Homo sapiens: one gene and its partners. The protein of the gene in region 6 purifies or fractionates together with the protein of the main gene of each other region. This does not show direct contact. Each region holds a gene or a part of one and is shown on either strand. Other genes may lie near its edges. The genes, in order: SCO1, ARFGEF1, RNF146, NFKBIB, FLII, LRPPRC and NAPA.

Region 1 (3,500 bases), on a different chromosome or scaffold from region 6:
CAATAGATTTCCTCTTCATTAGTCAAATCTGATAGTGATATTCATTAATAAGGAAAACTAAAGTTTTCAAGCATCAACTCTGAATGGCAGAGACCCTAATCTGACTGTTATTAGCCACCAAGAACTCAGAAGAGCAAAGAACTCAAGAAGAGGCAAGCAAGAGCACTATGGAAATTATATTCTTTTCTGTGAAATTCAGTCCCACAGCTATTTGAGCAAGGGCCCAAGACGATGGAGAGGCGGCAAAGCTGCTGGGAGGGCCTGTTCGCAGGCAGGAATGCACTGGCTGTGCCTCGCCCCGCCATGTCCTTCCACAGGTGGGCTCTTCACTGGCTTCACTTCAGCTTGATCCTCTGGTCTCCCCACAGCTTCCTGGGAGACTTTGGGTTGTAATCTTTACAGTTCCAAGAATCAATTTTGGTTGAACGCAAGGGTAACATCCCCATCCAAAACAGAAATGTTCTCATGGTATGAAGGCCATTCTGTAGAGTGCACGTATATATGTTTATATTTATATAGGCTCCTATGCGAGACAGTTTCCTTCCTCTTAGCAAGAGAATACTGCATCCAGCAACACTGCTTTGGCTAGCTCTTTTTTCTGTATGGCCTCATGTGTGTGGCAATTGAAGCAGCTATTTCTCCCTTCCTCTTGTTCTGGCCAAAATAATCTAGAAACTCACCATCTGGTCCAATCAAGTACATTATTATTGTGTGATCCACCTGCAGAGAAAAGGGGGGAGAGTGTGACAAAGATTACCAAAATAAGCTGCTTATTTTACTGAATGTATGCTGCAAGATAAGAGAACTTTACATTAATGCTTAAATAACCTTTACAGCATCTATTATTTATGGAATAGGCTTAAGTCTATCATAGCAAATTCCTAACAAAAATTGTCTAAAATCTTTTGTGTCCTAAACATCTGCACTGGTTATTGCTTGTCACATCAGCTAGAACCTGAAATTCTTTTGGTTTAATCCTTAACATATTTACCCACACACTCTGAGAAAAGAATTCACCTTCTAAGAAATAGCTGCTGCAGGCTTTCATAAAGCAGTCAATGTTTGTGGAATAGCAATGCTTGTTGAAAAATACCTTCATTTTTGAGTAAGATATCTCCTCAGACCCTAAACATGTTACAAACAGACATCACATGGAATTAAGTGTTGGTGAAAAACTGCTTTCTTTAGTAAGTTCTTGGGTTTATTCATGTTTTAGAAAGAACTGGTTGTCATTCATTACTGCCAAAATTCTGCTTACCACGCTTTATGAGAAGAAATCAGAAAACTAATCATTAGTTTAAATAATCTATAAATTTGAACAATATTTAGTTTTAATATTAGTAATTCAAACAGAAACAGGAAAAGAAACATTTTTCTCCCCAAGGAAATTTTTGTCTCCTCCACTGAATAATCCTATCTGAAATCAATCCATCACCTGGAAAGCAAATCCTCGGGAGCATAAATGCTGCCCCCCTAACCAGAGAGTCATCGTAAACTCAGCATCCATTTTCCCAGCAAAGTCCTAAAATGGTCCCAGCTCTAACTTTAACTTAGATTAGTCATCAGATTTTTTAGTTAGACACTTCCATAAAATCCAATTTTAAGTGAGATTTGGCACTTAGAGTCCTTGGAATTTATTGCAGGCTTGACTGCTATTTGGCAAGACAAAGAAAGACAGGAATGTGACTACAAATACCAAACTGGAGACACCTCCCAAACATACCCCAGCACGCACTATATGTCTGTGAGGGTATTATTTTTTATACACACATTCTTAAGATAGCAAATGGAAAGAGCACTTGCCTACCCACATAAGGAAAGAATGTACACCAAAAGAGCGCCAACAACTGGATTCCAAGTGCTGTGGGATAGTTCACCGCAGGAGCAAGACGGGGGGCTACGTTTCTCCACATATTTGATACAGAAATCAGAATTAAGTCTCCAGTTCTCTCTTCAAGCCTTACTCTGTAGCTTACATCACTCTTTCTCCCTATTTCTTCCTTTTCTCTATTCTCTGTTAAAAAAAACAAACTACAGTATGTGGGACTTATTTTCTGAGTGTTCTTAATATAAATTACCTTGTAGTACACAACAAAAATATTATTTTATCTGTATCTGTCGAACTTGTCAGAGGTCACTCCTCAATATTCCTTTGGGTTGTGACAGAGCACATTGACATTTATTCTAATACAGAGGTCTACAGAGGTCTTCCAAGTTCTAGTACTTCCTTGTATAGAAAAAGGACACTAGCATTAACTGACAAATTCTTTCACATGTCATCTTAAGCCATGAAACAGGTATTCTCCTCCTCTTCAAATGATATCACAGGCTGGAGAGAGTAAATTATATAATTGGTAAGTGCCAGGCCTAACTTTAAAACCTAGAATCTGTCCAGTTTCAAAGTCCACAAACTTTTATCACCACGTTGCCTCTAGCTCCAATTCTAATGGAGAGCAGCAACTCAGTTTTTCTAGTGTGCAAGTTACGTTTTAGTGTGAATTATTTTTTGAAAAGGTAATATATGCACATAGAAAACGAATATCCAGTTAATGTATACAATGAAAATGTCCCTCCCCCTCTTCACACCCAGAGTGCCTCAGTTCCCCTTAGAGTGAACCAATGCCATCAGTTCCTTCTGTATCCTTCCGAAGAAATTCTCTGCATCTACTATGTGTATATATCCACTACCACTTATTTTTTTTATACACAAGTAACAATATATTCTACAGTACTTGCTTTCTCATTTAACAATATATTGGACATTGTTCTACGTTAGATTATACACAGTAGTTAAAAAATGGTTACTGGATTTTCAGTTTTTTCTCTTTAAAAACAATGCCATAGGGTATATTTATAGGATAAAGTCCAAAAAGTAGAATCTCTTGCATAAAAAGTATATAACTTTAAATGTGAGAAATACTGTTAAACTGCCCTCTGAAGAGGGTGTATGAGTTTAATTCCTATCAACAATGCATGAGTGTGCCTGCTGTTCCAAATTCACTCCTGCAGTTTATTTCCTGCTTTTCCAATTTCGACAATATATTTTCAGATTTTCTGACCACTGCTGAGCCAAGAGAAAAATGTTACCTCATTATACAATTCACATTTCTTTTATTATGAAACTGCACATTTAGGTTTGAAAGCTATTTGTATTCTTTTTTCAAAAGTATTTTCTAACTAATATCTATATAATAATATAGTATTATATATATATAATACAATAATGTGCAGATCCAGCTTTCTATGGAATTCCAAATATTTGGTATACCCAGTTCGATCACTCTGAAGAGTCCACTCAAAAGCCAGAAGCTTGCCTGTTGTTGCTGTCGTTTGGGATTAAGAAAACTTCATTCCATTACATCTCAACATTAACCTTAAAGGTACCCCCTTACTTCCTGCAGGTCCTTAAATGATAACAGAAGTTTCCCAAACCATCCTATGGATGAAAATCTGTGACCTCAAGGGACTGAAGTCATACTAATGAAAAACCTAAGAAGCTG
Region 2 (3,500 bases), on a different chromosome or scaffold from region 6:
AATACTAAAACTGTGACAAATAGATGTATTCACAAGGTAAGAAAATAACACAGTAGAAGTAACTAACTTAGATGGTCATAATATATTTCCTGGGAAAGGTGACTCTGGAACTATTTTGAAGAACAATTATATCTTTTATAAACAATAAGAAAAAACATGCAAGAGAGGAAGAAGCCATACTAAAACACAAAAGCACAAGACAGTATTATATAATAAATAGTTCTGCATTGTTGGAAAGTGAGGTGAGACAGAAAAGTGGCAGGAAATGAAGCTTAGAGTCCAGCAGATCCAAATCATGAAGGTATTATCATACCTTCAAAGCAGCTTTGGTTTTATTCTCTAAGAGAGGGAAAAAATAGACTTTCATTCAAGAAAGGTTACTCTAGTTAAGCATGGGAAAAGACTGAAGAATGAACAAAACCAAAGAAAAAGGTAAGCCAATTGAAAGATTATACTAGTTGAGGAAATAAATAATCATGATTTGATTTGCAAGAATAGTGGTGGGAGATCGAGAAAAGAGTACAGATTGCAGGGATATTAGGAAGTATAATCAACAAGTCTTAGTGACAGATTAGATTCGAGAATCTAATCCTTTGAGGGGAAAATCTAAGCTAACTCCCAGGATTTTAGCTTATAAATTTAGTAGCATGCTGGGGTTACTACCATAAATAAGAAATACAAAAATAACAGGCTTCTCTATTTGTCTTTTGTTTTGGGTAGGAGAACTAAGGGGCTGATGTTGGAAAAGGGCTGAGGAACAGAACGCTGGCAATGCTAAGATGCACGCAGGAAGAAAGAAAAAACAGCCCACAAGACTGAGACGGCATAGTCAAAAAGGTAGGAGAGAAACAGGATAGACTGGTGTCATGAAACAGTTGTAGACAAGTATACTAGGAATACAGTTCCATGAAAGCATTCTCATCAATGGCTGTATTAAGTAGAAAGCAAGTCTAGCTGCTGAGAGAAGGACTGGGAGACTTCCACTTCGAAGCCCTCTGACTACTCCTTCTCATTTCTCAAGTACTTCAAAATAAGTACCTTGGCAGTACTTACTCTGTACGACACTCTTTTATAAACATTTACACAGTACTATTTTTAAAAATTGCTCATGTTTAGAATGCAATCTTGAATACAAGGACCAATGCCTTCATGGTGCTTGGCAATAGTCCCAAGTACCAAATATGTGTTTACTGGGTGACCAGCAGAATTTCAATATGCATATTTGTTTACACACACTAGACCAAGAGCCTCTCAGAAGGAAGGGCTTTTCCATGTATCTAGTTTCCCCAGGATCTTGCATAATATCTGGAAAGATGAGACTTTAATAAATATTGACTGAACAATTAGAATTAATGCAGTAGTGACAGCTATTTCCTGAGGCAATTTGGTAAGATTTTGTAATTTTAAAATAGAATATGTGTACATTTTTGTTGAACTGTTTTTCATATTAACACTGGAGAAAAAAGACACCTGAACATTCACTAAAAGGCACTGCTTAAGTATCAGGAAGAAATGCTTTACAGAAGTAGCAAACCAAGTAAGCACACAGGGGAATTTTTAAGTTTATAATAGTTAGATTCATGGAGACGGCAAACAATTTCATTTTTCCTTATGGCATCTCTTTGAAAAAAAGAGATGGGCAACAAGAGAAAGGAAGGCAGCATGGTGACATTCACAAAGGAAATAGTCCAGGAGCAGGCAGGTATCACAAAGCTTAGTGGGAAAACTGACTTCACAAGATTAGGATCCGGTACACTAGCCAGGCTGGAAGAGAGGTGATCACCTCATCAACATATAAAAATGAAATCAATAACAAGAATAGTACATTTGTAAGCCAGCTGGAAAAAATGTAAGACCTATAAAGGAGTACTGATAGCTATTAGAAGTTTCATATTTTAAATGTTTTGAGTTGTCACATGATTAGAAAATATAATGGGGGGATGTCATGAGCTAAACAGTGCAAAATTGCACAGATGATACCCATCAACAGCACTTATAATATGGTGACAAATTAATTTATATGACAAGAGTGGTTGGGCATTACAGGAATCTAGTTGGGCTAGACTGCAATGAACAAGGGGGGCTGAATAGGAGCCTCGTGAATTAGATCCATGAGAACTATCCTCCATTTTACTCATTATAAGGTGATAAACCCACGGCAGGGGTGGCACTATACTGGCAGAGAGATATTCAATAACATTTCTCCTTAAGCTATGACACTTACAAATCTATCCCTTGTTCTATTATTTCTTTTTGTTGCTTTAGGACCTCAAATTGTTCTGGATTATCAGTGCCAGACATCTGTGTACTGTAGCTGCCTATTCCTGATGATGATGTTGACTCCAGGGAATTTAAACTTCCGTATCTGTTTATTGTCTCAGGGTGTTTGATTTCACTCATCTCTTGCTCTGAGGGTTTTTCCTGACCTGAAAGAAGAAAAATTGATAGAGTACATTATTCTATCAAAGAAAAAAAAAAGTGTAAGGGCAAACAAATTCTTGAATAAGGCAAGGCGTTTCAATGTTGCTTAGATATCTATTTAATACAAAATAACTATTAGGTAACATAGTAAACAACATACTTTGATATTAAAACACACTGTAATTTGTACGTGTATAGTCTGCACCATTAGGAGGAGTTCTTTTTGCAGTTGCAGTGCTGAGTATCCACTGGATTTCTGCTCTCAGCTCACTCCTCATGAGGAATTGTTTTCGATAATACCAGTGTAGCCCTGCAGCTATGAGTTTTTCTCTGAGTGAGGGTAAACATCAAACACAGATGAACAATTCAACCTTCTTAAAACATACTGCCTTTTATATGTTTCCTCTATAATTATAATACAAGAAAGTTGCATAAATATGCTTCATTTTACATAATCAAAATATTTCTAAGAAGATTTAGAAAAAAATAGTTTGGATAACTAAGTTAAAAATCTCACAATTTTAAAGCTAGACATTTAACTCACAGAGAATGTTTCCTCATCAGTTAAATGAATAAATATGTCATGAAATTGGTTTAACAGCAGCTGCAACTATCCTCCAAAGTATTATTCACTTAAAATGACAAAGAATTACAGCTCAAAATATCACCTTACCAAGAGTTGTCTGGGAGTTGGGATTCACATACTGATCCTTACTCCATTCAACCATACACTTCAAAATCGACACTAAGCATTCTAAACCTTTTTTCCTCAGGCTCAATTCCTACAAAGTAATTCAAAAACAAAATTTTTTTTAAAGGTCTTTTAAGGAAAACACATGACTCTTTCCTGGTAAAGTTTAAATTTGAAAATGTTTTTATAGTTCTTACCTGAACATTACTCATACCAAGTTCTTGACTGCCCCTTCCTTGAGCAATTTTTGATAGATCATTTACTAGTCTTTCAAATATATTGGCTGCATTTAAGTCACAGTCATAGTTTACATAAATATCCACTACACTCTGAGCATCTGTAACAATATAACATTAATTTCAACAAAGTACATCTAGGATATGAGTAC
Region 3 (3,500 bases), on a different chromosome or scaffold from region 6:
GTGCCACTTGAGGTGGTACAAGAAATTTAAACAAATGTAAAGATGCAGTATGAATCATAGCTGTATAAAATTAATTGTAGTACATACTGTAATAATTTCCTGTTGCTATTATGAATTTCCACTTAAAATGCTGTGGACACTAATCATCTCTGCATGTATTGGAGTAAAATGTAATCTCTTGTTCTTGTGTATTTTTCATCATGTTTAGTACAATACCATAAACCTTGAATAACACCATGGGACCCATGTGAAGTGCCACTAGTGATGCTAGAAGTGCTCCCAAGAAGCCAAGAAGTCATGCCATTACAAGAAGTTAAATTACCTGGTACACACCCTAGATGGGTCTGCAGCTGCAGTTACCCATCATTTCAGACAGACACCTTATAAACAGGTAACATAAACACAGTATCGGTAAATGCAGTACTGTAAATGTATTTTTTCTTCCTTAGGAATTTATTTTCCTTTAGCTTATTGTAAGAATATAGTATGTAATGCATATAACAAACAACGTGTTAACTGACTTTACAGTAGGCTATTAGTAGTTAAATTTTGGGGAAGTCAAAACTTATACTCAGATTTTCAATTGTGCAAGGGGTTGGCACCCTTAACCCCATGTTGCTCAAGGGTCAATTGTACTGCCCTCTTATTGTCTTTGAGCATTCTTTTATTTCACCTCTCATTATGCATTATCTTTCAAAAATACATTTGCGTAGAACAACACAACCAGGTTCTTCTTGGCTGAGATTTAGCCATCTTATGCAACCAATAAAAGTGACTCCAGATAAAAGCAGACAAAAAACTTAACAGATGTAAACAGGAATCCTACAGCAGCCCTAAGAGTCCACAGTTCATATAATTTTAGTAAATCTTGCATGCTTTGGTGACTTTTTCAATTTCTATATCCTCATGAATAATTTTTTCAAAGTGCAGACTAACTGGATAAATGCTGGGGAAGGAAAATGAATTAAAACTAACATAATGCTCTAGATCCTAGCTATACAAACAAACTGGGATTCCCAACTAGTACTATCAGCACTACCTGGGAGCTCTTCACAAATGAAAATCCTAAGTGCCACCCTAGACCTACAGAACCAGATCTCCAAGTGATTCACATATATTAGTTAGTGAAACACTACCAAATCCATATGTCACTGAATCCTCAAAACAACCCTGTGAAATATGACTATACCTATTTCACAAATGAGGAAGCCTAAGCTCAGGAAGTTAAATGACTTACCCAAAGTCAAAGCCATCAATATTGGGAGATGCGATTCAAATTCAAATTTACCTTTAAAAATGTCTTTCTACAATGTATTGTCTCTCACAGAAAAGGTCACGTATTATCTAATAGAAATATGATGCAAGCCACGTATGCAATTTCAAATTTTCTATTAGCCACATTAATAATAAAAAGAGGCAGGGCATGGTGCCTCACATCTGTAATCCTAGCACTTTGTGGGTAGTGACACAGGAGGATGGCTTGAGCCTAGGAGTTATAGACCAGCCTGGGCAAGATGGTGAGACCCCCATTTCTACAAAAATAATAATAGAAAGAAACAGGTAAAATTAATTTCAATAATATATTTTATTTAATCCAACGTTTCTACATTACTGCTTCAGTATGTTTCAATATAAATTGTTAATGTAATATTTTATGTTCTTGGGTAAGCGTATGCATACTTCTTTGAAATCCAGTGTGTATTTTACACTTACAGCACAACTTAATTCAGACTGGATACATGTCAAGTGCTCAATAACTCCATGTGGCTAGTGGCTACTTTACTGGGCAATGCTGGTCTAGAATGTCTTGCATATTAATCTTGTTAAATACAAAACTGACAAGTCACTACAGGAATTGTTTAATAGAGACAATGAATTCAATGTTAATTTACCTAGACTTTTGCCGAAGACACATTAAAAAAGAAAACTGCATATTCTGTTATAATCAAAGTTAATGGGTTTAGGTAGCCCCAATTCTGCCAAACTGACCCATCACCTATTAACTCTCAGAATTTATACAGTTGACCCTTGAACAATGTGAGGAGTTAAGAATGTCTACACCCTGCGCAGTCAAAATTCCATGTAAACTTTTGAGTTTCCAAAAACTTAACTACTAATAGTCTACTATTGCCTGGAAGCTTTACTGATAACATAAACAGTGGATTAATATATGTTTTGTATGTTGTATTATATATTGTTTTCTTGCAATAAACTAAAAAAAAGAAAACATTATTTAAAAAATCGTAAGGAGGCCAGGTGCGGTGGCTCACGCCTGTAATCTTAGCACTTTGGGAAGCTGAGGCAGGAAGATCATGAGGTCAAGAGATCAATACCATCCTGGCCAACATGGTGAAACCCCGTCTCTACTAAAAATACAAAAATTAGCTGGGCATGGTGGCGCACACCTGTAGTCCCAGCTAATTGGGAGGCTGAGGCAGGAGAATCTCTTGAATCTGGGAGGTGGAGGTTGCAGTGAGCCAAGATCGCACCACTGCACTCCAGCCTAATGACAGAGCAAGACTCCATCTCAAAAAAAAAAAAAATCATAAGGAAGAAAAATATGTTTACATTCATTAAGTAGAAATGGATCATCATAAAGGCCTTCATCTTTTTCAGGAGGACGAGAAAGAAACATTGGTTTTGCTCTCTCAGGGGTGGCAGGGGCAGAAAAAAAAAGTATTGTATAAGTGGAACTACACGGTTCAAACCTTTGTTCAATGGTCAACTATAATTTCAACTGGGCACAAAATAGGGCATACATGTAATACTTATAACAATCATGTGAAGAAGCCCTCAGAAAACTCCCACATTATTTGAAACCAAAGTTTTTTTAAAGTTGGAGGAGAAGGGATGCTTTTATTTTAACCAATAGGGGGATGTAAAACAGAACAGTATGATTTCAACTACAGGCCAGAATTAATTTGCCAAACATAAATAACTCAAACATACATAATTCCTACTGGAATGAATGACCTGTAAATTTTACACCAAACTTAATATGATGATGTATGAAGAAGGTAACATAAAAAAAAGAAAAAGTCTAAAACCAAATTAGATACTTTGCCCCTAACAATTCTGGAGGAAAAAAACAGTGACAGGTAAAACTTAAAAATACACAAAGGGGTTTAGGGATTATCAATGAATTTAAATCTTGACCCATTCAAATAAGTGAAAAATAAATACAACTAAAAATGAAGTAATATTGTACCATTTATAATTTGTAACAACTCAAAATACTCATACTCCCACTTTTCAAGTCAGTCACAAGATCAAAGTCAAGAGTTTTTTTCAGGTAATAGATTCAAGCAAGCGATTATCTTTAATCAAAGAAAAAGATGAGCATATAACATCAATATAAATACATATAAAAACAAAGACAAATATCAATTATAAATATTTGAAGACTTACTGTATTTTTCTAATTATTAACAGCTAATGTTTAATAAGATTTTTGCCATTTATTCAAAATACACAAAACAGTAAATGTTCTACATGAAATC
Region 4 (3,210 bases), on a different chromosome or scaffold from region 6:
AGAGGCAGGAGAATCGCTTGAACCCGGGAGGCGGAGGTTGCAGTGAGCTGAGATCACGCCACTGCACTCCAGCCTGGGCAGCAGAACGAGACTCCATCTCAAAAAAACAAAACAAACAAACAAAAAAAGAAAAAGAAAAACAAAACCAAAAAGAGAAACCATATGACCTACAAAGACTAAAATAGTTATCTGGCTCCTTACAGAAAAAGTTTGCTGACTCCTGCTGTAGGGTTGATAGTTTACAACTTTAGGTTATCATGGGCTACCTTAAAGTGATATTATGCCATTTCACATAGAGTAAAAGAAATTTATTTTATTTTATTATTATTATTTGAGACGGAGTCTCACTCTGTTGCCCAGGCTGGAGTGCAGTGGCACGATCTCAGCTCACTGCAACCTCCATTTCTCAGGTTCAAATGATTGTCCTGCCTCAGCCTCCTGTGTAGGTGGGATTACAGGCGCATGCCACCATGCCTGGCTAAATTTTTTTTGTATTTTTTGTAGAGACAGGGTCTCATCGTGTTGGCCAGGTTGGTCTCAAACTCCTGACCTCAAGTGATCTGCCCGCCTTGGCCTCCCAAAGTGCCAGGATTACAGGTGTGGGCCACCGTGCCCAGCATAATGAACTGTTTTAATATTCTTGTTTGCAAATTCTAACATCTCTGTCATTTCTGGGTCAGTTTCAATTCACTGATGGTTCCTATTATGGATCATGTTTTCCTGCTTCTTTACATGCCTGATAATCTTTGGTTAGGTGCCAGACATTGTGAATTTTGCCTTGTTAGTCTGGAGAATTCTGTATTCCTATAAATATTCTTGAGGCCGGGCGCCGTGGCTCACACCTGTAATCCCAGCACTTTGGGAGGCCAAGGCGGGTGGATCACGAGGTCAGGAGTTCAAGATCAGCCTGGCCAACATGGTGAAACCCTGTCTGTACTAAAAACTGCAAAAATTAGCCAGGTGTGGTGGCACGCACCTGTGGTTCCGGCTACTCGGGAGGCTGAGGCAGAAGAATCGCTTGAACCCAGGAGGTGGAGGTTGCAGTGAGCCACGATCGTGTCACTGCGCTCCAGCCTGGGCGACAGGGCAAGACTCTCTCTCAAAAAATAAAAATTAAAATAAATAAATAAATAAATAAATAAATAAATATTCTTGAATATTATTCTGGGATGGAGTTAAATTACTCGGAAGTAGTTTGAGTCTTTCCAGTTTTGCTTTTATGATTTGTTAGGTGGGTGTTGAGCAGTGCCCCATCTACAGTTAATTATTCCCCACTATTGAGGCAAGACCTTCCTGAGTATCCCACCCGATAGCCTGTGATGATGTTTTTCCAGCCTGGCTGGTGGGAACACTCACTATTCCTGGCCCTGTGTGAGTAACGAGCACTTTTCTGAAATCCTTTTGGATGGTTTTCCCATCCCCACAGACTCACAGGCATGGCTGATCCGTATTCTCCGGAATACACAAGAGAACCTCCTGCAGTTCCCCAGCAATCTCTCCTTTGGCAACTCTGTTTTGTACTCTGTCCTGTGACTCTAGCCACGCTGGCCTCCACAGACTCTTCCTCCATATCCATCTCCTGACCTCAGACAACCTGATGCGCTCTGCTTGGATTCCCCTCTCTGCACCGTGGCTTTGAAACTCTCTCAAGACAATAAGCTGTGGCAGTCAAGTGTGGGGCCCACCTCGTGTTTCCTGTCTTTCAGGGGTCACTGTGATTCATTGCACGATGTCCAGTGTCTTCAACACTGTTGCTTCATATACCGTATTTCGTCTGACTCTTGTTTGTTTGTTTGTTTGTTTCACGTGGGAGTGAATTCTGGTCCATGTTACTTCATTTTGGGCAGAAGTGGAAATCCCACTGAATAAACATTGATTCCACGAATTTGCTGATGAAACTCTGACCTCTGACCTCCCAGATAGCTGACAGGGGGTTCCAGAACTGTGGTCACAAGGCCTAGCATACAGTAGGCGCCCCATGTTTGTTCAATGAAGGAATGCAAGAGGACTTGAACTTTGCCCTCTCACCCCGGTCTTTGTCCCCAGGGCACTGCACTTGGCTGTGATTCATCAGCATGAACCCTTCCTGGATTTTCTTCTAGGCTTCTCGGCCGGCACTGAGTACATGGACCTGCAGAATGACCTAGGCCAGGTGAGCCACGAGGGATGGTGTAGGGCTTGGGGTCCAGGGTTCCCAGTGTGACTCCCTACCGCCTGTCCTCTGCTTCTGCAGACAGCCCTGCACCTGGCAGCCATCCTGGGGGAGACATCCACGGTGGAGAAGCTGTACGCAGCAGGCGCCGGGCTGTGTGTGGCGGAGCGTAGGGGCCACACGGCGCTGCACCTGGCCTGCCGTGTGGGGGCACACGCCTGTGCCCGTGCCCTGCTTCAGCCCCGCCCCCGGCGCCCCAGGGAAGCCCCCGACACCTACCTCGCTCAGGGCCCTGACCGTACTCCCGACACCAACCATACCCCTGTCGCCTTGTACCCCGATTCCGACTTGGAGAAGGAAGAAGAGGAGAGTGAGGAGGACTGGAAGCTGCAGCTGGAGGCTGAAAACTACGAGGGTGAGGGTCGTCACCAGGGAAGGACTCAGCTCCTGGGCTAGGCGAGAGCACCTGGCCCTGGGCTCAGCTTCCCTGATTTGAGACTGAGCTCCTTGGGAAATCATGCCTAGGCTTCAGGAGCCCACACATCGGGACCAGGGACCTCCACTCAGGGCCCAGATGATTGAGAATTGGATATGTAGGACCCAGGACCCCCACCTGGAGGCCCCAGGTCACTTGGGATGCAGACCTGTCACCCACAGACCCAGAGCTGCCAGGATCCAGTTGTCGGGCCCCCGGGCTCCCCACCTGCAGAGTGTATTGCAGACCCCTACCCTACCCAGGACCGGGGAATGCAGAGCTCAGGCCCTCTGTGAAACTCTGGCACCCCAGGCTCCCAGCAATGGGCAGCAGGGTTCAGAGACAGCCCTCCTCAGCCTCATGGGAAGAAGGGCTCATCTGCCCACAGCCCTGACATCCAAGTTTCTGCTCCCCTGCCTATAAGCCCAGCCACCTGAGACCAGACCCCTCCTCAGATGGACTGACGTCATTCAGGACCCAGTGTTCAGGGCCTGCCTCTCGCCCCCAGGTCACAGGCTTTTCAGCTACTTGGTACCTTTTTTTTTTTTTTTTTTTTTTTTGAGACAGTCTCACTCTGTTGCCA
Region 5 (3,500 bases), on a different chromosome or scaffold from region 6:
ACACCATTCTCTGGCCCTGTTCCCTCATGCTCAAGCTTTCTGCATGTCTGTAAGGTATGAGGAGGTGTCAGTCTTAAGTTAGGGAGAGAAAGCAGACTTCCTCTCCATCCAGATTCTGATTTCTCTGTGGTCCACTTCTCTCCCTCTGTTCTGAAAACCCTGACTCAGACCTTACCCCTATCTCACCTTCTGGAATTAAGAAGAAGAGAAATGGTTTGAACAGAAAAGGTTCCCTGAGGGCCCTGTGCTGGGGCTCCGGGGCACATTTGAGCTGGGCTTTGAGGCATGAATAGGAGCTCACTGGGAGGCTAGGAAGAGCGCTCCAGGAGAGGGAGCTATTTGATCAAAGGCCAGAGGTGAGAGAGTCCTCAGGCCTGGCCTCTGGTGAGCTGCCTGAGGAGGTGTCCCTCTCTAGACTCTGTTCCTTCCTGAGAGTGGAAGCCAGGAATTATAGACTCTTATGGTTTATTCCCAGGCCATCGTGGCCCGAGCCAACAGTCTGAAGAATTCCGGAGTCCCCGATGACATCTTCAAGCTAGATGATCTCTCAGTCCTGGTCAGTGGCTACCCACTCACCTGGCCCCTGTGCTAGCCGGACCATTCAATCCCCACTCACTATAAAAGTCCCTGGGGCCATTGTTATCCCATTTTGCAGATGGGAAAACTGAGTCTTGGAGTGGATAATACCTTGCCTGAGGTCACTTTTGGAGTCAGATCCCTAACACAGGCACTCTTCCTCCCAAGTCCCTGGCTGTCTCCCTTTGGCCCTGAAGCCCCCTCATCTACCCCCACACCCAACTCAGTGCCCTGCCTGATCCCCAAGCTTGGCAGACGCCTGGTGGGGAGGAGACTCCCCTGACCTGGGTCTTGCCCCTTCTACCCAGGACTTGAGCCACAACCAGCTGACAGAGTGCCCGCGGGAGCTGGAGAACGCCAAGAACATGCTGGTGCTGAACCTCAGCCACAACAGGTGCCAGGCCAGTGGGGGGCAGGGGGCAGGTGGGCCCTGTGGGGTGGCTGGTGCTGACTCAGGTGGCTCCTGCTCCCCACCCGTAGCATCGACACCATCCCCAACCAGCTCTTCATCAACCTCACTGACCTACTATACCTGGACCTCAGCGAGAACCGCCTGGAGAGCCTGCCCCCGCAGATGCGCCGCCTGGTGCACCTGCAGACGCTCGTGCTCAATGGAAACCCCCTGCTGCATGCACAGCTCCGGTGGGCGCCCCCTCGGACCGCACTCCTGCAGAAGCCACCCTGAGGAGTCTGGCCGGGCCCCTTCACTTCCCAGGGCCCTAACCCTTCTCCCTTAGGCCCAGCCATCCCTCCGTGCAGGCAGCACCCCTCAGTGTACAACCTCCTAAGTATCATGTCCACCTCTCAGTCCTGTCTTCCCGCTTACACACCCCGCAACCACCCTTGGGCTTGTCCCTTCAACCAGATGTGACCTCACACCTACCCTCTGGGCCCTGTGCTTTTGGTCCTGCCCTGCCAAGCCCCACCCTTAACACTCCCTAGGTGGGCCCTGGCCCTGACCACTCACGTCACCCTGGCAGGCAGCTCCCAGCGATGACGGCCCTGCAGACCCTGCACCTGCGGAGCACCCAGCGCACCCAGAGCAACCTGCCCACCAGCCTGGAGGGTCTGAGCAACCTCGCAGGTCAGGCAGCCCCAGGAGCCCCTCTGAGCTCGGGCCCCCTCTGGGCCCTCTTGCTTCCTTGGGTGGAAGGGGTTGAACCCTGCTCTTCGGACCAATACCCAGAGGGAAAAGGCTGGAGTTATGTTACAGTGACTTTTGCGATTATGATGATGCCTTAACACTGACTTTATGCCTAGAAAACTCCCCCGCAACCCCCATGTGAGGGAGTTTGTCCAAATGGAGAAACTTGGGCGCACAGCAGTTGTCACTTGCCTAAGCCACACAGCTCAGAGGTGGCAGAGCTGGGGTTCACACTAGGGCTGGCTGCCCTGGCACCTGGTGTATGGGCCCCAGCTGATGCACCCCACCCTGCACCCCAGACGTGGATCTGTCCTGCAATGACCTGACACGGGTGCCCGAGTGTCTGTACACCCTCCCCAGCCTGCGCCGCCTCAACCTCAGCAGCAACCAGATCACGGAGCTGTCCCTGTGCATAGACCAGTGGGTGCACGTGGAAACTCTGAACCTGTCCCGAAATCAGCTCACCTCACTGCCCGTGCGTCTGAGGCCCTCAGTAGGGGGATGGGAGGAAGGCCGTGAGCCTGGCCCTGACCTCCCACCCCTGCCCGTTCCCCCTCCAGTCAGCCATTTGCAAGCTGAGCAAGCTGAAGAAGCTGTACCTGAATTCCAACAAGCTGGACTTTGACGGGCTGCCCTCAGGCATTGGCAAGCTCACCAACCTGGAAGAGTTCATGGCTGCCAACAACAACCTGGAGCTGGTCCCTGAAAGTCTCTGCAGGTGCTGGGCAGGGCTGGGGCTAGCAGAGGCACTTGCAGCACAGAGAACCCCGGGATCGTAGTCAGAGCCCACCTTGTGGTCTGTGCAAGTCAGACAAAATGAAGATGGGTTAATTCACCTTTTCTTTTCTTTTCTTTTCTTTTTTGTTTTTGAGACAGAGTCTCGCTCTGTCGCCTGGGCTGGAATGTAGTGGTGCAATCTCGGCTGACTGCAGCCTCTGTCTCCCAGGTTCAAGCGAATCTCCTGCCTCAGCCTCCTGAGTAGCTGGGATTATAGGCGTGCGCTACCACGCCCGGCTCTTTTTGTATTTTTAGTAGAGATGGGGTCTCACCATGTTGGCCAGGCTGGTCTTGAATGCCTGTCCTCAAATGATCAGCCTCCCAAAGTGCTGGGATTACAGGTGTGAGCCACCACGCCCGGCCCAGTTAACTCACCTTTGTGGATGAAGACCACAGTCCCATGCCAGCCATTCCCAACTTGAGCCCCTGAGAGCACCCTTCGGGGGGCACTGTTAGGGACAAGGCCACATGACGTGGGAACGCAGTGTTGCTTCTCTCCCCTTCTGGAGATCACAGTGCCCGTAACATGGTCTCTTGGCTCTGAGAAGTCCTTCAGGCAGAGAATGGAGACCCCCGCCAGTTCCTCTGACCCTACCTGCCTCCCCTCCCCAGGACTAGGGGTTTTCTTGCCCACTTCCCCTTGTCTGTCACCTGCCTGAGGCCCTGGCTGGCCCTGTCTTCACAGGTGCCCAAAGCTGAGGAAACTTGTCCTGAACAAGAACCACCTGGTGACCCTCCCAGAAGCCATCCATTTCCTGACGGAGATCGAGGTCAGGCATGCTGGGTTTGAGAGGGCTCAAGAGAGACAAGCAAGGGGTGTGCCCTGGAGCAAGGGGGACCCAGCAGAGGCCTCCTGAGGGAGGTGGCCAGTGCCAGGGTGCCCGTGGGGAGAAGGTGGGCCCCACCTCCCTGCATCCAGAGTACATTCCACAGTCTCATTTAAGCCCCCAGCCAGCCCCAGAGGTGGGTGGGAGGAGAACCCAGTTCCCTGACCTCTCAGCCC
Region 6 (3,500 bases):
TTCTAGTGTATAATGCCGATTTCAAGTTAATTACTACTTGCATTTCTAAACGAGACTACAATTATAAATCCACAATAGCATGGTTTTATCATTTCCCTGCAACTTTGACTACAAATTATAGATAGGGACTATGTGCCCACTCTGTACCACATAACCCTGTATGGTCTGCCCTATAGCTGTAAGATCCTCCTAAATGGATGCTTTTATCGTTCAGAGCTAACATCTGCTAAATCACACCATTGTTTCTTCAGCAGATGGCTTGTCAGGAGGCCAGATAATAAAGATGTGTTTACACTGTATATACAGCCAGACTAATGGTCTGATACCGATAGGGCCTGTTTGCTATGTCGATACTAATTAGCCAAGCAGAGCCAATGAAAGCTTTCCAAAAGACTGCATGTTAATACATTAGATTCATTAAGCTTCATTAGGAAGGCAGAAACAAACATTTTAGGATATGGAATAAGTGCATTTTTATAATGTTGTTCTTAATTATTACACAGACAAAATGTTTTGACCACTTTACAAAAAGTGATTTTAAAAAAATAGGCTAATCCTTAGAAAGAGTTAGAAAGGCGTCCTAGGAAAACATTCAATGTTCTAATAAATGATTTTCTCCATACATTTTTCCCTATAATAAAATTAAAACAATCTTTTCTGAAAATCAAAGGAAAAGAGGAAGGCTAAAAAGGAAATTTCAAAATAAAGCCAAATCAGAAAGTTAAGAAACAAGAAAATAGTATGAATGTATTATCAAGTGTAATTAATTTTATTAGGCTTAGCATTATCTCAACGAGAAAATTTGAGTATGCAAATCAGCTGTGTAATCAGCTATGCTTTTTCCATGAACCATTAAATAAAAACCTTAATTAAAATAAAAACTTTAAAGTATATATTTTGTTAATGTTATTAAAAAGTAAGGCAAAGACTACTGCAAAATTCAGGCGCATATATTAGGTTATGTTTATAGGTTTTACGTTTATAGGTTTTACGTTCAGCCTTCAGACCTTCTTAAGCAAAAACAAAGCCATTAGTGCAGGCACATAAGCAAATTGTGCCATAAGTCATGATCTTCAAACTCAATCCAAACAGCAATGCTAATAAAAACTAGCTGCAGAAATGCAAAAAGCACTGAGCTGTGCAAATGTAAATGACAAGCTTGCCAATCCATTAAAACTAATGGCCTACACTGTCCATGTAGCTCTGGTTGGATTCACATGCAAATTTCTATGCAAAGTGTTCAAGCACTTTGCAGGACATGATATCCATTAATATCAATTCACATGTTATTCCAGTGGCAAGATACTTGCATCACATATTTCCTTTATGTGCTGAGGCTTACCTTGGAGCTTGCCATGCTTTGCCAATACTCTTACAAGGCCTACATACTTGCCGGTGTCAAGGACAGCAGATGAATCTAAGCGGTCACTAAAAATTAAAGCCACATTTATATTGTTTTAAAAGTCAATTAACTGCTAAAAGAACAGCAACATCCATTTAATCACTTTTCAAAAGCTCATCAGAAGACCTGAACTAATGTTGGCCTCTACGCTTCAGTTAGGATTTCTTTTTGAAGCCATATACAAGTTCACACGAAATTATATTCAAAGTGACTAGTGAAGTAAAAGCCCAACACTACATATATATTGCATCACTCCATCTGCAAAGGATACTTATGAAGAAACTCTTTGGCTTTAAGTGATTCTAACCTTCATCACGAATACTTGACATTTTTACTTGAAAAATCTAACAGGATAGGAAGCCAAAGGTACCTGAGAAATGGATAGAATTTTATTTACACTACAATATTGAAAGGGAAATGTTATCAAGCCTCTTAAAACAGTTACCACCATCACCACTGTTGTGATGATATATAATCAATGGAAAAAAACCTTTGGTTCTAAGGACTAGAATGTCTTATCATACTTAAACAAAGACACCTTGCTGAACATAAGCCACAATTAATTAAAGAGCCGTATAATACGAAATTTCAAAAACACTGACAACAAAAGAATTTTTAAAAATGACATTATATAAGAGAGTAATATTCCATCTAGATAATCTATCAAGGTCTGTAGAGCAGAATAAATGTTGACAACTTGTTTCAGTGCCAGGGTACTCACAATTCTTCTTTCAAGTTCAAGGCATCTTCTACTTTATCATGTCGACAGCATAAATTTATTAAAGCTGCATAGCCACCAGTAACCATGTCGGATTCATATTTTGCTTTCAATTCAAGGGCTTTTTGCATATTCTAAAATACAGCATAGATGTGAAAAAGAAGAAATCAGTGTGAAGGTAAAAATGTCACATTTTTAGCTTTACTGTTCAGAGTTTAGAAAAAGTTAATAGTACTTTAAAAATAAATGGTTTCATGTTAACAACCTGACTCTGCCCCTTGATATTTTTATTCACCTCTAAGAAGTGGGCAAGTCTTACACGTGTAGGGGTTAAAAGATGTGTTATCTGTAATATAAAATAGGCCATTATTTATGCCAAATTTGATGTTTTAGGCTTTGTGTATGGTATTATTTAAAAAAGACTTCCAGATTAAGTAATTCCCAAATCAAATCCTAATCACAGTCTAATTTCAGGATGCAGAAATATGTATCATTGAAAAGTTTCTCAGTCTAGTTTAGTATCCAAGTAATATGAAGAAATATTTTAGAATTTAACAGTAGCAGATTATAATCATAAAGTTAGTCATGATATTTTTTCCCTAAAACTACAAGTTTATGGCTCAATTATATTGAACTAGAAAGTGAAAAATAGTCTAGTGATATCCCACAAATTGCAGACATACACTAAAATGAACACAAAGTACAGCTGGATGCCCGCTGAAAAAAGGCAAGGGACCCTTTATCTCAGAAAGAGCTTTTTTCCAGCAGGAAAATGGAATTTCAATCCCTGCATTAACAACCTAGTAATATTTGACTTGCAAATGACTACTGCGTGTATCAGTTGCTTGACAATCTAGATATAAGAGACCGGAGCCATGGCTTGAAAGGACATTTGGCATGTATGATAAACCTATCACAGCTGTTACTATCATTCACTTTGCAGATTATCGTAAACAAACTACAGCAACCAGAAAACATGCCATTCAAGGTGTAGCTGAAATTAGTTAACCTTTCATTTAATTGCATTCTTTACAAGCCTGACATATAACGATCAATTGTAAAAATCATAAATATTATATTTGGTTTTTCTTATTGTTACCAAGAATTTTTTGCCTTAATAATATTTAAATATTAAAACAAATGTTACCTCTTCTGAACAAAGCACTAATATGAGTTGCTTTAGGACATCTCTTATAGGTTGATTTTCAGCTTTTAGTGTTTCAAGTGTGGACTCCAATTCAGATGATGTAAGTTGCACAGTCTACAGAAAAGAAAAAAGAAAAGAAAAATTTCCTGAAAAAGGAAATATAGTATGCCTTTTGTCACTCTTCCCTTTAAACTGACTTTCCTTTCTACCTTCCTAAATGTCATAAATGCTAT
Region 7 (3,500 bases), on a different chromosome or scaffold from region 6:
CACATCTCTACTGAAAATACAAAAATTAGCCAGGCATGGTAGCACACGCCTGTAATCCCAGCTACTCGAGAGGCTAGGGCACGAGAATCGCTTGAACCTGGGAGGCAGAGGTTGCAGTGAGTGGAGATCACGCCACTGAACTCCAGCCTAGATGAGAGAGAAACTCTGTCTCAAAAAAAAAAAAAAAAAAAAAAAGAGAGAGAGAGAAAGCACTGACAGGAGCCCCGGCCTGGGTGGGACCCTTCACTCTGGCTCCAGTTGGCAGCTGCCCATCTGGTCTGCATCTGTCGTTGGCAACGCGCCCTGGGGGCAGGGCAGGTGCTGAGCCTCCTGTGGGCTCTGCCTATCCCTGTGGCCTGCTGCAAGATGCTTATCAAATGTGACACTTGCGGGAAGGCTGGGCAAGGGGAAGTGCCGGACACACACTCTCCAGTAACCTAATTTCTTTTTTTGTTTTGAGACAGGGTCTTGTTTTGTCGCCTACGCTGGAGTGCAGTGGTGTGATCACAGCTCACTGCAGCCTCAACTTCCTGGACTCAAGCGATTTTCCTGCCTCAACCTCCCAAGAACTAGGACCCCAGGTGCATGCCACTACACCAGGCTAATTTGTTGTAGAGAGGAGGTCTTGCTATGTTGCCCAGGCTGGTCTCGAACTCCTGTGCCCAAAAGATCCTCCCACCTCAGCCTCCCAACATGCCAGGATTACAGGCATGAGCCACCCTGCCCAGCTCAATAACCTAAGTTCTATGAATGAAAACCATGACTGCCTGTGGAGTGAGGGGGCCGTCAGGCTGGTGGGGAGCTGGGTGAAGACCCAGCCAGCCCAGGCCAGCTCAGGTGACCTAATCCCCCCAGCTCCCACTTCCCCCTCCCCAAGTGGTTTGGCCGCAGAATAAGAACAGTGCTGGGGGTGCTGAAAGAGGGGACGCAAGGCTGGGGCAATGCAGTGGGACCCGGGGGTGTCAGGACAAGCAAGCAGCCCTTACCATGTCTGTGTAGATCTCGATTGCTCGCATCAAACAGTTAATGGCCTCTGGAGAGAAAGGGAGGTGGGAGGAGACATGAGAAAGTGAAGTCGTTTCAGCAGAAGCTGAGGAGAGGAGGCGGACGCAGGCGCACCTGGCTGCCAGCAGAGAGATCAATAGGCGCTCAGAGCTGCCAGCGCTGCCACACACTCTCAAGGGGCTGGGAAGAAGGGGACGGAATCCCTGAGCCCCAGGAAATCTGGTGAGAGGGCTGACTCTGCAGACTGTGACTTGCTGGGCACATGCTTCTGGGGGAGCCCTTCTCTCCTCGGGCTGCCAGGATGCTACCAGCTTCCCACAACCCCAGGGACAGGGCACAGCAGTGCTAGGCCAGGATGATGGCCAGACTCCCACGGTGTTTTAAGACAGACCTGCCAAGGCCCTGCTCTTGAAGGACTGAGCTGCTGGCAAAGGGGAAGGAGGCATGGGAGGCGGCCAAACCAGCATCTGAGGTGGTCTTGGAGGCAACAGGGTGCCAGGTTCTACCTGGGCTCTGCCACCATCTCTGCAGGATCCTGAGCAGCTTCTGCTCCTGCACCAGGAGGACCTGGACCTCTGGCACGAGGAGGCTGGATGTCATCAACACTGAGCCCTCAGTGTGCTCTCCACTGCCCCCTCTTCCTCGTAGCTCAGCAGTCGGGAGCCCTCTGCTCAGTCCCTTTAACCTAGTCCTGCCACCCACCAGCTCCTCAAAGGTTTTGCCAAAAAACCTGAACACACCAGGATGGCACTGAGGAAGAACTGGGCTACCTTTGTTGTACTATCTCTTGCAAGATTTTAAATTTGGGAAAGGCTTTTTTTTGACAAGTTATTTGGAGGAGAGAGAAAAGCATGAGTGGGAGGCATTTTCTAGCAGACAGAAATGAGCTCTCAGGGGGTATTTTTTAAGAACACCATTTTAGCACATCTCAGGAGGACAGGGGTGTTGTGGGGAGGGAGGCCTGGGTTGGGGAGAGGGAAAGGCAGGGAGCTTGGACAGGCCACAGGGCATGGGCTCTGAGCTTCAGCCTGGGCATCTGAAAGTTCCTGGTCACCGTGGGGGTCTCCATGGTCACCCAGGCCATGTTCGCCTGAGAAGAGGGTGCTACCAAGAAGCGCCGGGGCTGGGCTCCTCTCAAGGGGCTCACGGTCTGGATGGGACTCCAAACTCCCTCCGTGGGGAGGCATCTGGACAGAGGCTCTTTGTCTCAGGTCTGTGGCTGGGCTTTCAGGGAGTCCAACCCCTCCTTCTGACATGTAAACAGTGGGGTCCATAAGCACTCCTCTGGGGAGTGGGGTCTGTAGGTTTTGTCCAATTCAGAAAGACCTCTGGGGATCTAAAAGGGACTGAGAGAAGGTACAGCACTCAGTCCAGGTTCTAGGGCTGACAGACCGAGACTGTGGCAGCAGACAGTGGAAACGGTGGCAAAAAGGGGGCAGATGAGGAGGAAGGGGAGAGAACACAACCTAAATCCGGCAGTTTGAAGACACATACATCCTGTAATCGGCGGACCCAGAAGCAACGGCTAAGCCGGGCCACGCTGCAGAGGAGAGCAGCAGCTGGAGTGAGGTGAGAGGCCCGCCTTGCCCCGCCCCACCTGGCTGCAGTCTCCACATGGAGGCCCCGGGCTGCTCACTGGTTCACTCTCCTGGCCGGAACACCCAGGACACCAACCTGGCACCCTGTGGGCTGAGGCGGCAAAGGCTGCTGCTCCGCAGTGAGCAGTGAGATCTGCAGCTGCCACCTGGGCCTGCTGGCACTGGCTCTGGAGCACCCGCCGTCAGCATGGCACAGTCCTTGCAGTAGCAGCAGGGAGACAGCTTACCCCCCAGGCAGCAACATGGACTCACGGGGTTAAGTCCCCTCCATGTCTGGAAAGCGGCGGGCCACCAGCAGACACCTGGGACAGCTGGCTCCTGGACGAGCTTCTGACACACTCATGACTGCTACTCTTATCTCAGGTCACCAGGCCTTGTGCACTCGGACAGGCAGAGCAACACCCAGTTCTGTGGCCTGGCCCCTCCTGTACCCACCCACAGAGGGCTGGAAAGGGGCTCAGAGCAATACAGCCCAAGTTGGGGAGCTATGGCCCAGGCCACCGCCCATCCCCGCAGTCACTCCTACCAGCGACGCCCAACCTGACTTCTGCGTCTCTGAAGCCCTTCCTGGTTACACTTGGTCATCTCCTCCTTAGTAAAATGGGGGCAAATCACAGAATGCACAAAGAAATCAAATGGGTTAAAAGATGCCAAGCATCTGGTACACAGTAGAAACCCAGTAAATGGCAGCTGGGGAGGAAGTGGGGGACAAGCAGGGGCCAGGTCGCTTCTCTGCCCCAGGTACACACACTGCCCCCACCCCCAACTATCAGGCAGGCCTGGGAAGAGGCCTCGCTGGCCCGAGTCTGCCCTGAGCAGCAGCCATGGTTGGGTAACTGAGGAACCAATAACACATATGAGCATCACCCTTCCCCACCCAGAGCCACCAAGGTGGCA

The links.
Region 1: the proteins of LRPPRC (region 6) and SCO1 purify together in Homo sapiens (affinity purification with mass spectrometry, with the first as the bait; one large-scale study listed by BioGRID). This does not show direct contact.
Region 2: the proteins of LRPPRC (region 6) and ARFGEF1 fractionate together in Homo sapiens (co-fractionation; one large-scale study listed by BioGRID). This does not show direct contact.
Region 3: the proteins of LRPPRC (region 6) and RNF146 purify together in Homo sapiens (pull-down; one large-scale study listed by IntAct). This does not show direct contact.
Region 4: the proteins of LRPPRC (region 6) and NFKBIB purify together in Homo sapiens (tandem affinity purification; 2 studies listed by BioGRID and IntAct, with this or other methods). This does not show direct contact.
Region 5: the proteins of LRPPRC (region 6) and FLII fractionate together in Homo sapiens (co-fractionation; one large-scale study listed by BioGRID). This does not show direct contact.
Region 7: the proteins of LRPPRC (region 6) and NAPA fractionate together in Homo sapiens (co-fractionation; one large-scale study listed by BioGRID). This does not show direct contact.

What each region holds. Positions count from the first base shown.
Region 1 is NC_000017.11:10,680,534-10,684,033, forward strand, and holds part of SCO1 (protein SCO1 homolog, mitochondrial), read right to left. Parts: intron 721-3,500; coding exon 586-720; 3' UTR 1-585. UniProt on the Homo sapiens protein: Copper metallochaperone essential for the maturation of cytochrome c oxidase subunit II (MT-CO2/COX2). Not required for the synthesis of MT-CO2/COX2 but plays a crucial role in stabilizing MT-CO2/COX2 during its subsequent maturation.
Region 2 is NC_000008.11:67,263,782-67,267,281, forward strand, and holds part of ARFGEF1 (brefeldin A-inhibited guanine nucleotide-exchange protein 1), read right to left. Parts: intron 3,450-3,500; coding exon 3,310-3,449; intron 3,204-3,309; coding exon 3,095-3,203; intron 2,427-3,094; coding exon 2,225-2,426; intron 1-2,224. UniProt on the Homo sapiens protein: Promotes guanine-nucleotide exchange on ARF1 and ARF3. Promotes the activation of ARF1/ARF3 through replacement of GDP with GTP. Involved in vesicular trafficking.
Region 3 is NC_000006.12:127,269,864-127,273,363, reverse strand, and holds part of RNF146 (E3 ubiquitin-protein ligase RNF146), read right to left. Parts: intron 1-3,500. UniProt on the Homo sapiens protein: E3 ubiquitin-protein ligase that specifically binds poly-ADP-ribosylated (PARsylated) proteins and mediates their ubiquitination and subsequent degradation. May regulate many important biological processes, such as cell survival and DNA damage response.
Region 4 is NC_000019.10:38,902,969-38,906,178, forward strand, and holds part of NFKBIB (NF-kappa-B inhibitor beta), read left to right. Parts: intron 1-2,046; coding exon 2,047-2,152; intron 2,153-2,233; coding exon 2,234-2,567; intron 2,568-3,210. UniProt on the Homo sapiens protein: Inhibits NF-kappa-B by complexing with and trapping it in the cytoplasm.
Region 5 is NC_000017.11:18,252,239-18,255,738, reverse strand, and holds part of FLII (protein flightless-1 homolog), read left to right. Parts: intron 1-475; coding exon 476-556; intron 557-884; coding exon 885-970; intron 971-1,056; coding exon 1,057-1,218; intron 1,219-1,556; coding exon 1,557-1,660; intron 1,661-2,019; coding exon 2,020-2,195; intron 2,196-2,280; coding exon 2,281-2,438; intron 2,439-3,182; coding exon 3,183-3,267; intron 3,268-3,500. UniProt on the Homo sapiens protein: Is a regulator of actin polymerization, required for proper myofibril organization and regulation of the length of sarcomeric thin filaments. It also plays a role in the assembly of cardiomyocyte cell adhesion complexes.
Region 6 is NC_000002.12:43,943,990-43,947,489, forward strand, and holds part of LRPPRC (leucine-rich PPR motif-containing protein, mitochondrial precursor), read right to left. Parts: intron 3,382-3,500; coding exon 3,268-3,381; intron 2,255-3,267; coding exon 2,124-2,254; intron 1,429-2,123; coding exon 1,343-1,428; intron 1-1,342. UniProt on the Homo sapiens protein: May play a role in RNA metabolism in both nuclei and mitochondria. In the nucleus binds to HNRPA1-associated poly(A) mRNAs and is part of nmRNP complexes at late stages of mRNA maturation which are possibly associated with nuclear mRNA export.
Region 7 is NC_000019.10:47,494,564-47,498,063, forward strand, and holds part of NAPA (alpha-soluble NSF attachment protein), read right to left. Parts: intron 1,034-3,500; coding exon 987-1,033; intron 582-986; exon of another isoform or gene 465-581; intron 1-464. UniProt on the Homo sapiens protein: Required for vesicular transport between the endoplasmic reticulum and the Golgi apparatus. Together with GNA12 promotes CDH5 localization to plasma membrane.